Linked DNA regions of Homo sapiens. The protein of the gene in region 3 interacts with the protein of the main gene of each other region in a pairwise test. Each region holds a gene or a part of one and is shown on either strand. Other genes may lie near its edges.

Region 1 (3,655 bases), on a different chromosome or scaffold from region 3:
ATGAAACTCCAGCCCAGCCCCTAATACCTGCCTAGACCCAGGCCCCACTCTGCCTAGAAGCTGGAGAGGCCTGGGGTGAGCTGGGGCCTTTGCATCCAGCTGCATCCAGGCCAGGGTATTCTGGGGTACCAAGACCAGAGGCAAGGGGCGAGCCCCAGGCATGAAGGTGATGGTCAGGAGCACTCCTAGGAGAAGAGATGCAAAAAGGTGGGAAGGCCCAGCAGGGGACACGGCTTCATACCCAAAAGTCCAGAACATTCCACCCCATGCCCGACTGCATCTAAATTCCAGGGCTGAGGAGGCCTTCGGTGAGGTCCTGGCTCCCTCCACCCCTCTTTCTCCTCTGTGCCTGCCTCCCTATTGTCTCCACCCTCTCTCTCTCCTTCTCCACCCCGTCTCTTTCCTTGGTCCAAGGCCTGTCTCCCATTGCTTCTGGCCCTGCCCTCCCTGTCTCTCCTTCTCTCTTCTTCCTCCCCACTGCTGGCCTCAGCCTCACCCTCCCTCTGCCTGGCCAGATAGGCCCCGCCACCACCGTCTGGCTGCCACTTACTCCTGGGCCACTTTTAGAAACATGACTCATGGAAAGAGAAGGGAATGGAAGCTGCTGTGAGGTCATGAAGGCCCTCCCCATGCAGCTGCCCCCGGAGGACCCCTCCCCAGGAAGCCCCAGCACCTTCCACTATGCTTTGTGGCCGTCCCAGGGGCTAAGTGCACTCACACAGGGGAGATGGACCACATCAGCAAAGGCTCACTTGCAAAGATGCCCACTTGAGGCCACTTAGGCTGCCTTCTCCCAGGCAGGGCTGGTGCACCCAAACACTTCCCAGCTGGGAGACAAACTACCCAGCTCCCATCCTCAGGATATGGGAGTGTCTCCAAGGCCATAGAGAATTTTGCAAAATCCAAGGTAGGGGGGCACACCTTGGAGGTTTTCCCAGCCCCACCCTGAGGCCATCCTACAAGAACAATTCTCTTCCCGCCTTTGTCTGCAGCCCTGGGTTACAGGGAATGACTCACATCCCCTCCCCTGCCTTGCAGCCCCAGCTTTGGGCCTTTCCTGGCGGACCCCAGGGCTACATCCCTTAGGTCCGCCAGCCCTCTGGCCAATGCCCAGTTCCCTTTCTGTCCCAAGGTTGGGCCAAAGAGGCAGAAGCCCTGTGTTCAGGTTCTGACTCTTCTACTTTCTGGCACCATGAGCATGGCCTATTCCCTCTGGTCTTCAGTCTTCCCATCTGCAAAATGGATCTCATTGTCCGTGCCTGCTCTCCAGAGCAGCTGGGAGGTTCAAAGGCCAAAGGGGCCGTCTCAGGGCTTTTGGAAAGAGTTGTCGACGCAGGAGGGATGGGGCAGTGGTAGTGACTCTTGTTTTGGTTCTTCTCATTGTGTGTGCAGGATCTGGGGACAGGCAGAAGGAGTGACGGCGGGTGGAGCTGCTGGCAGAAGCCTGCCCAGAGTTAGGACAGGCTGAATGGGGTTGAGGCTGGTGAGGCCAGCCCGGCTAGTCCTGATGCCCACCCACACTTGCACCTGTGAGGCCCCTGTCCCTCTGTATCTGAGCCCTCAGGAAGCTCGTGGCTCCTTCTATTCCTCTCTCTTCTGCTCTCCAGGGTTGGCCTAATTGCTAGCTGGCAGAAGTCCTGAAACCAGCCCTTCCCCGATGATTAATGGAGTCATCGCTGTAAGTGGCTCCCGCCTTGGAGAACCCTCCCAGCCCCATCCCTCACAGATGTGACCAGAAAGAGCTCATCTCCTCTGGTTCTTAACCAGGTGCGAGAGCCCCAGCCCCTACCCAAAGACAACATGCTTTTCATGCAAAGTGGGCAGAGCAGAGGGTGATAGTTCCAGGCCCTGTACTCTGAGTCCTTGGGAAGGGGAGGGGTCAGCCACCTGCCCTGGGAATTCTGGAATGTGCCTTCGTGACTGCTGAGAACCACATGGGCTGACAGCCTTCCTCTCCAATACCCACTACCACTACCACCAGGAAGCCTCCCCTGATAGCTTCAACATCTACTGACAACCTTCCTTCAACTATCTAATACACTTGCATTATTTACATCTGGAAACACTTGATAATTCAGAATTGGAAGGGGCACTCAAAGGCCTGTTGAAACTCAATGTCCAGGAAAGAGCAGGTAAAATACTTCAAATGTACGTTACTGTTTACAACCCATTAAATTTGAAAACTTGCTTAAACAAGGACAGTTCCCATTGTAGTCACTTGTTTTATATATATGTACATATATATTTGCACATCCCCAGGTAGTTTTGCCTGGCCCAGGTCTTATTAAGGCAAAAAAAAAAAAAAAAAAGTAAGAATCAGAACAATTCTCAATTCTCAATTCTCAATTGTCTTCCCGCTTTTGTCTGCAGCCCTGGGTTTTGTGAATGCAAGTATTACCGAAAGAATAATCCACACATTTCTTCTGAAGTGTCAGAAAGATACAAGCTCTCCATTTTGTGCTAAGCCCTTGTAAGCCCACTACTCAAGGCCCAGTTCAGACCCCACCAGCTCCTAGAAGCCTTCCCAGATCCCTGGCTGGAATTAACTTCTGCTCCCACCCACCATGCCCTCACTGAATTCTCTGTGCATCTTGTAGGAAATCAATCTTCCTGCGGCCTATGTGGGTGCATCTCCTCCTGGCCTGGGAGCTCGGTGAAGACAGAGTGGGGGACCTCTGCCATTTCTCTGCCCACGCCTCTGAGGGGAGGCTTACTGTGTGCTGATAGAAGTGGCAGAGAATGCTAATTTTCTAGAACTCCCACCCTTGCTAGGGGCAGCCTGGCTCCAGAGATGCTCTCCGGACCCAGGGCGGTCTTCTTCACTTTCTAGCTGGGAAACAATGGGCCAATCATTAGCCTCTGGGAGCCCTAGAGGGCAGCCTGTGCGATGGCTCAGTGAGATGATGACGCAGAGGCTGAGGCCCAGGGAGGATGCAGCAAAGCCAGGATCCTTGCCCCATAGTCTGTGCCACCCTACACTCACAGGTCAATGGGCTGGCCACTCCTAGGCCCAGTCAAGGGACCTGGCTATTCCCAGCTTGGACTTGGGAGCTGGCAGAAGGTGGTTCTGTGGCTGCCAGTGTGTCCTGGCTCTAGGGCAGCCCAGGGATGATCTCTCCAGGCAATGTGCTCTAAGCACTCCCTGCTACCCATAGACAGGCCAACCAGGGTGGCTTCCAAGGCATGGGGCCCCTGACTTGGCCTGGGCACCCTGGTGCCCTGGCCTTGGGGAAGAGCAGGCTCCAGAGCCAGGCCTGACTGAGGCTCTGAGCTTTCGTTCTCAAGGGATAGGAGACATCGAGGCCTGCCCTGCCCACCCCAGTGCCTCCAAGACTCAGCACTGGGCAGTGAGGGGACCTATGTGGGCTCCAGAGTGTCACTCCTCCATGGGTGTTCACACGTGGACATGGGGGGATTCCTGGTTTTGTGTGCCTCTGTGTGTCTTTGTAGATAAGTGTCTGCTGTGTCTGTGATGACCACATGTGTCCAGGGCTGACTCCCTCTTTCTCTTTTTTGTTAGATTGTAAGTGGTTTATTACACAATAATTACATTTTAAAAATCTATAAAAGAACTGGCCAGGCGCGGTGGCTCACGCCTGTAATCCCAGCACTCTGAGAAGCCAAGGCGGGTGGATCACAAGGTCAGGAGATCGAG
Region 2 (3,655 bases), on a different chromosome or scaffold from region 3:
TCACTTTCCACTTCTGTAAAATGGGGTCACAATACCTTCTCTCTCTGCCCATCCATAAAATGTCTGTCCAGTTCAGGGCCACGTTCCAGTAAAGCCTTCTACAGTGTCTAATTCTAGTCCTCAACCTCAACCTCTCGCACCTCAGACATGGAGATCTTACAAGGCCACGCTCCTGACTCAGCTGCTGTCTGCTCAGGGCGCCCCCAGCACTGAGGGCCTGAAATCCACTGAGGTGCCGAGTAGAAGTGATTGCCAGCCGGGCACAGTAGCTCATGCCTGTAACCCCAGCACTTTGGGAGGCCAAGGTGGACTGATCACTCGAGGTCAGGAGTTCGAGACCAGCCTGGCCAACACAGCAAAACCCCGTCTCTACTAAAAATACAAAAATTAGCCTGGCGTGGTGGCAGGCACCTGTAATTCCACCTGTAATTCAGGAGGCTAAAGCATGGGAATCGCTTGAGCCCGGGAGGTAGAGGTTGCAGTAAGCTGACATTGCACCACTGCATCCAGCCTGGGTGACAGAGTGAGAGCCTGTCTCAAAAACAAACAAAAAAACCCAAAAAACAAAAGAAGTGATTGGCACAGGCTCTGGAGTCAGACTGGCCTGGGCTTGAGTCCTGCCTGTGCTGCCTTCCAGCTGTGTGACCTTGGGCAAGCCCCTTCCCCTCTCTGGGCCTCAGTTTTGTCACCTGAAACATGCGAACATAAGAACACTCATCTGCCAGGGTCCGTGGGCTCTAGAACTAGACGGTCTGGGTCTAAGTCTTGGCTCTGCCACTTCCACGGGGATCATAAGGGCATGTGCTATATTACATGAGTTAATGTGCATAAGGCACACAGAACAGTGCCTGGCACATAAGTAAGCACCCAGGCTGTTTGCTCTCCTTCTTCAGTGAGCTGGTACCTGTCAAGTGTTTGAAGGCTTTCTGGCTAGCAGTGAGGGTATATGTATCCGCCAGGAGGGAAGCAATCAGGAGACTTCCTGGAGGAGGAGGCCTGGCAGAAAGGATACAGAGCCGGCATCGCTGACAACCTGCAGCACCACGGTGATGGAGGTGCGGGGGTGCAACGTGCCCAGCACCACCGCCTCGCACGTGTTCCTGATCAGCCGCTCCCGGCTCTTCTCTGCAACACCTGGGGAAATTGAAGAGAGGTTCAGGGTCTTCCCCTTCATTTGACTCACCTTCCTCCATACGCCTCACCCAAATTCCCAGAAAGGGCTCACGGTCTCAGCCTGGGATGGTGCAGTTACCTGCAGGGATGATGGAAGATTCCAGTGGGAAGAAGGCAAGGCCTGACTGCCATCCACTGACCCCTGCTACCTCCAGCATCCACCAAGGGAACCATCCAAGGGAAGAAGACCTGGGAGTTCCATGTCTGTGCTGCTACCCACGCCCACTCCCACCCTAGCAGGTCCAGTCAGTGGGGACTGAGGGATATGAGGGTAAAAGGGTGGAAAAACAGGTTAATGGTCCAGGCACAGTGGCTCGCGCCTGTAATCCCAACACTTTGGGGGGCTGAGGCGGGCGGATCACTTGAGGTCAGGAGATCAAGACCATCCTGGCCAACATGGTGAAACCCCATCTCTACTAAAAAAATACAAAAAATTAGTGGGCATGGTGGCACGTGCCTGTAATCCCAGCGACTCGGGAGGCTGAGCCAGGGGAATTGCTTGAATCTGGGAGGCAGAGGTTGCAGTGAGCTGAGATCGTGCCACTGCACTCCAGCCGGGGTGACAGAGCGAGACACTGTCTCCAAAAAAAAAATAAATAAATAAAAATAAATAAAAGAAAAACAGGTTAATGGAATGAATGAGAGTGGAGGCAGAGAGAGGGAGAAAAGAGGGAGGGAGAAATTAGAGGCAGAGAGAGAAGCAACAGAAGATGAGTTATTAATTAGAGGCGGAGAGTTAAAGACAGAAACAGCTGAGTGGAGACCCAAGCGGGGAGTGGAGACTCGGGGCAGCTGGTAGGGAGGAGCTGGGGGGGTGATTTTGACAAACTGGGCACCACTCAGAGGTTCAGCAGGGCCCAATTACCAGGCAGCCCAATCTTCGGCCTCAGGATCACTTCGAGTGTGGCCTTGTTGAAAATCTCTTTGCTGACCTTCACCTCGGCCGGCCCGTACACACCCGCCAGGACAGAGGTGTCACCTGAGGAGACAGCAGGGAGGGCCTCACTCACAGCTTCCCTGCTCCTGGGGCCCCATTTGTGGCACTGAGCCTGACGGCCAGGGCTCCCCACGTCACCCCCGCCATTTGTTGGTACTGATTCTTTGAGCACTCACTTCATTTCTCTCATTTGTAAAATGGGGAAAATAGCAGTCCCTCCCCGCTAGCGTCTTGTGAGGATCAAAGGACACAATTCACAGAAAACACTTAGAACACTGCGGGGCTCACGCTGAATGTGCAACAGACTTTAGCTGTATTAGTAACATTCGTCCATTCAGGCATTCAGGCAGGGTCTCACTCTCATTGCCCAGGCTGGAGTGCAGTGGTGCCATCACGGCTCATTGCAGCCTTGACCTTCTGGGCTCAAGTGATCCTCCCGCCTCAGCCTCCCAAGTAGCTGGAACTACAGGCATGTGCCACCATGCCTGACTAATTTTTATATTTTTAGTAGAGAGGGGATTTTGCCATGTTGCTCAGGCGGGTTTCGAACTCCTGGGCAACTGTAATCCCAAGGTGCTAGGATTACAGGCGTGAGCTACCACGCCTGGCCCTGATATTAGTAATTTTTTTTTTTTTAATGAGATGGAGTCTTGCTCTGTCGCCCAGGCTGGAGTGCAGTGGCGTAATCTCGGCTCACCGCAACCTCTGCCTCCCGGGTTCAAGCAGTTCTCCTGCCTCAGCCTACTGAGTAGCTGGGATTACAGGCGCGCGCCACCACACCTGGCTAATTTTTTTATTTTTAGTAGAGACTGGGTTTCACCATGTTGGTCAGGCTGGTCTCGAACTTCCTGACCTCATGATCTGCCCGCCTCCCAAAGCGCTGGGATTACAGGCGTGAGCCACTGTGCCCGGCTGGTATTAGTAACTTTTAACAGGAAGTTCTTCCTGAAAGCTAACCATCCTCCCTCTTACTGCAGCTGCTCTCAACTTCTCTTTCCAAAGCTTCCCCAGCCCAGCTCTTCCCTTAGGCACTGGCCCCCAAATTTTGCATCAGTCTGGACACCTGAGAAAGGGATAATATCTGGAATGAATCCTGATTCCTTATTTCCCCAGAAGCTATGAACGGGGTACAGGAGGTAAAACCTAAGAAATAAACAGCCTGGCTTCTAGTACTGTCTGCTGTAATCCCAGCACTTTGGGAGGCTGAGGTGGGTGGATCACCTGAGGTCAGGAGTTTGAGACCATCCTAGTCAACATGGTGAAACCCTATCTCTACTAAAGATACAAAAATTAGCTGGGCATAGTGGTGGGTGCCTGTAATCTCAGCTACTTGGGAGGCCGACGCAGGAGAATTGCTGGAACCGGGGAGGCGGAGGTTGCAGTGAGCCGAGATCACACCATTGCACTCCAGCCTGGACAATAACAGCAAGGCTTAGTCTCAATAAAAAAAAAAAAATACATTTTAGGCCAGGCATGGTGGCTCACACCTGTAATCCCAGCACTATGGAGGCCCAGGTGGGAGGACTGCTTGAGGCCAGGAGTTTG
Region 3 (2,418 bases):
TCTGTCCAGCAATGAGATTTGGGCATGACAAAATCAGCATCTATAATGATACGTGTTTTAATAGCACTTCAGTATTGTTTCCACAAACACATTTTATAAATAAATTATACTTGTGTTTATTAATTTTTAAAAGCTCTTGTTCTCAAAAAAAAGCTTTACATAGAGAAGTATTTTCCTCTTTTAACAATTGCCTGTTTATGGCTTTGAAGGAGGAAAAAAACTAAAGAAGCTACAAAGCTAAAACTGTTAAGCATATATGAGAAGGGGATAATGATAGTATCTTTGTTATAGAGTTACTAAGGATTAAAAGAGATAATCCACATTAAGCATTAGAACAAGGCATGGCAGTAATTGCACAATATAATTTATAATCATCATCATTCCCATCAACCTCTGTGGGAATAAGCGCAGAATGTCCTTATTTTTCCATTAAAATTTCCTCCATAGGTTTTCTAAGTGCAGTGGTGGCATATTCAGTCTATAGGAAAGACAATTCAAATGTTTCATGACTTTGACCTGTTTCCGACATATTTTTTGTTATCGTTTTACATATTGATCTGATGAAACATCTGGCATTTATTATTTAAAGGAAGAAACTAAATAAATATTTTAAATGTCAAACACAGCCATGGACTACAGGTTAAACATCTGTGGCAAGGTTTCCACAGATAAAGCAATATTCTTTTCAGTTTGGCTCTGTCTGGCCAGTTGTACCTGACAGCTGATCTCTGGGTTTGTAGAATGCAATCTTGGGGAGGGCTGAAATAGGTGCCTTCCTAGTAACCTGCGTTGTTGTTTTGTGGTAGTTCAGATAAATGCTAGTGAGGGGAGAACTTTAAACTTTGGGTTGATGATCACCCAGGTATCTAGTTAGCGCATAAAATTTTCCAAAGCTCTTCACCTTAAAAGGATCCTGACAAGTGAATAACATTTCTGGAACTTACAGTTATCATTTAAAGAAGCATATATCTCAGTATCTTTTAAAATCTGATGTCAGGATCTAGTAAAGACTCTGGGAAATAAAAATTAAATTCATGTCAAGGAAGAAACAGATAAACATTTCAGGAAATGTGATTATTTATTTCTTATTCCTGGCCTGGTTTCTGTAGGCATGCATAGCCTTAATATGAGAGCAATGAATTTGCTCCTAAACGCAGGCTGCTGGGTACACTCAGAGGGACCCGTTAACCCTGCTGTTCTGGAAATGCCCTCTTTGTGAGACGTGCCATGATTCCCATTTTAAACAACTCAATAGATACTTGCATTTTAAATTTTAAATTAGTGCAAAACAAATAATGTTACTTCTGCACACCGGGGAAAGGGACTACACTGCCAACGCTTACCACTAATGAGGCAACTCTGACCCATTCAGGGTCGCAGATCTCCTTCCCTGAGCAACTCCAGCCTTGTACCCAACTTGTTGCCTTATCATTGAAAGGGGGGGTCATAAAAACCCAAGACCCAGGCCCTAATCCTGGTCTCTTGATACTGCTGCTAACAACCAATAGCCCAGTGAGTTAAGCAAAGACAACCAAGTTGTGCATCTTAACTTGTTTTGCAATATGCTATTTTCTGGTCCCCAGATGAATTTACCTCTCTCAGATTTTCCCAGTTGGAACAAAATCTTTAACTTCACTGAGACAATGGTCTAAAGGACTAAAATACCCATTTTACTAGCAGCCACTTAGGAGGAGAATATTATTTTATCATGAATAGTCACTTAAATAATGCTGCTTATGGTGAACACATAAAATGGGGTCTTTATATAAAATAAGAGTTCAATAAATACTTGTTGAATAAATGAATGAAACAATGAACATCTGATTTAAAAATTGATGAACTGCTAAATGTTCGTATAAATCTTTGCATACCTGAACCAGAATGAAATTTTTACAAGGTAAAATTCAATTATGAGCCCTATGAGGACACAATGATGTCATGATCTTTTCCTGTTATACATAGTTTCCCAAGAAGGCTACATTTAAATGAACACAATAAAAAATGTACCAACTGAATCAAATTATATAAATTATATGAGATTAAGTTTCATAGCTTTAATTAGCCATACAATAACTTTTTAGAAGTATATCTCCTCCAAAAAAGTCATTTTTAAAGATAAAAACAAAACAAAAATGAAAAGCTTATCTATGAAAAATGTATGCACATATCCTGGGGAAAATACAACTTTGCCTTGGGATATTGAGATTTTTCTAGAAATGCAAAGGTCTGCAGCTCCATCTCTCATCCTATTGCACCCTGACTTTTCCCTGGCATTACCTTTCGTCTTAGACTCTGCTAAATAAAGGAACATACGCTAGGATGAAAAGTCTTATTCTGAAAAAATTATTATTATTTTATCCCCATTGAAAGAAAAGAGTAAAGAAGGATTGCTTCAAGAGCCAAACCCTGATTCAGCTC

The links.
Region 1: the proteins of PRDM6 (region 3) and AQP1 interact in binary tests that used the Homo sapiens proteins (3 or more experiments, as listed by UniProt).
Region 2: the proteins of PRDM6 (region 3) and EXOSC5 interact in binary tests that used the Homo sapiens proteins (3 or more experiments, as listed by UniProt).

Annotation. Positions count from the first base shown.
Region 1 is NC_000007.14:30,918,211-30,921,865, reverse strand, and holds part of AQP1 (aquaporin-1), read right to left. Parts: intron 1-3,655. UniProt on the Homo sapiens protein: Forms a water channel that facilitates the transport of water across cell membranes, playing a crucial role in water homeostasis in various tissues.
Region 2 is NC_000019.10:41,390,829-41,394,483, forward strand, and holds part of EXOSC5 (exosome complex component RRP46), read right to left. Parts: intron 2,153-3,655; coding exon 2,039-2,152; intron 1,135-2,038; coding exon 1,013-1,134; intron 1-1,012. UniProt on the Homo sapiens protein: Non-catalytic component of the RNA exosome complex which has 3'->5' exoribonuclease activity and participates in a multitude of cellular RNA processing and degradation events.
Region 3 is NC_000005.10:123,190,122-123,192,539, reverse strand, and holds part of PRDM6 (putative histone-lysine N-methyltransferase PRDM6), read right to left. Parts: 3' UTR 1-2,418. UniProt on the Homo sapiens protein: Putative histone methyltransferase that acts as a transcriptional repressor of smooth muscle gene expression.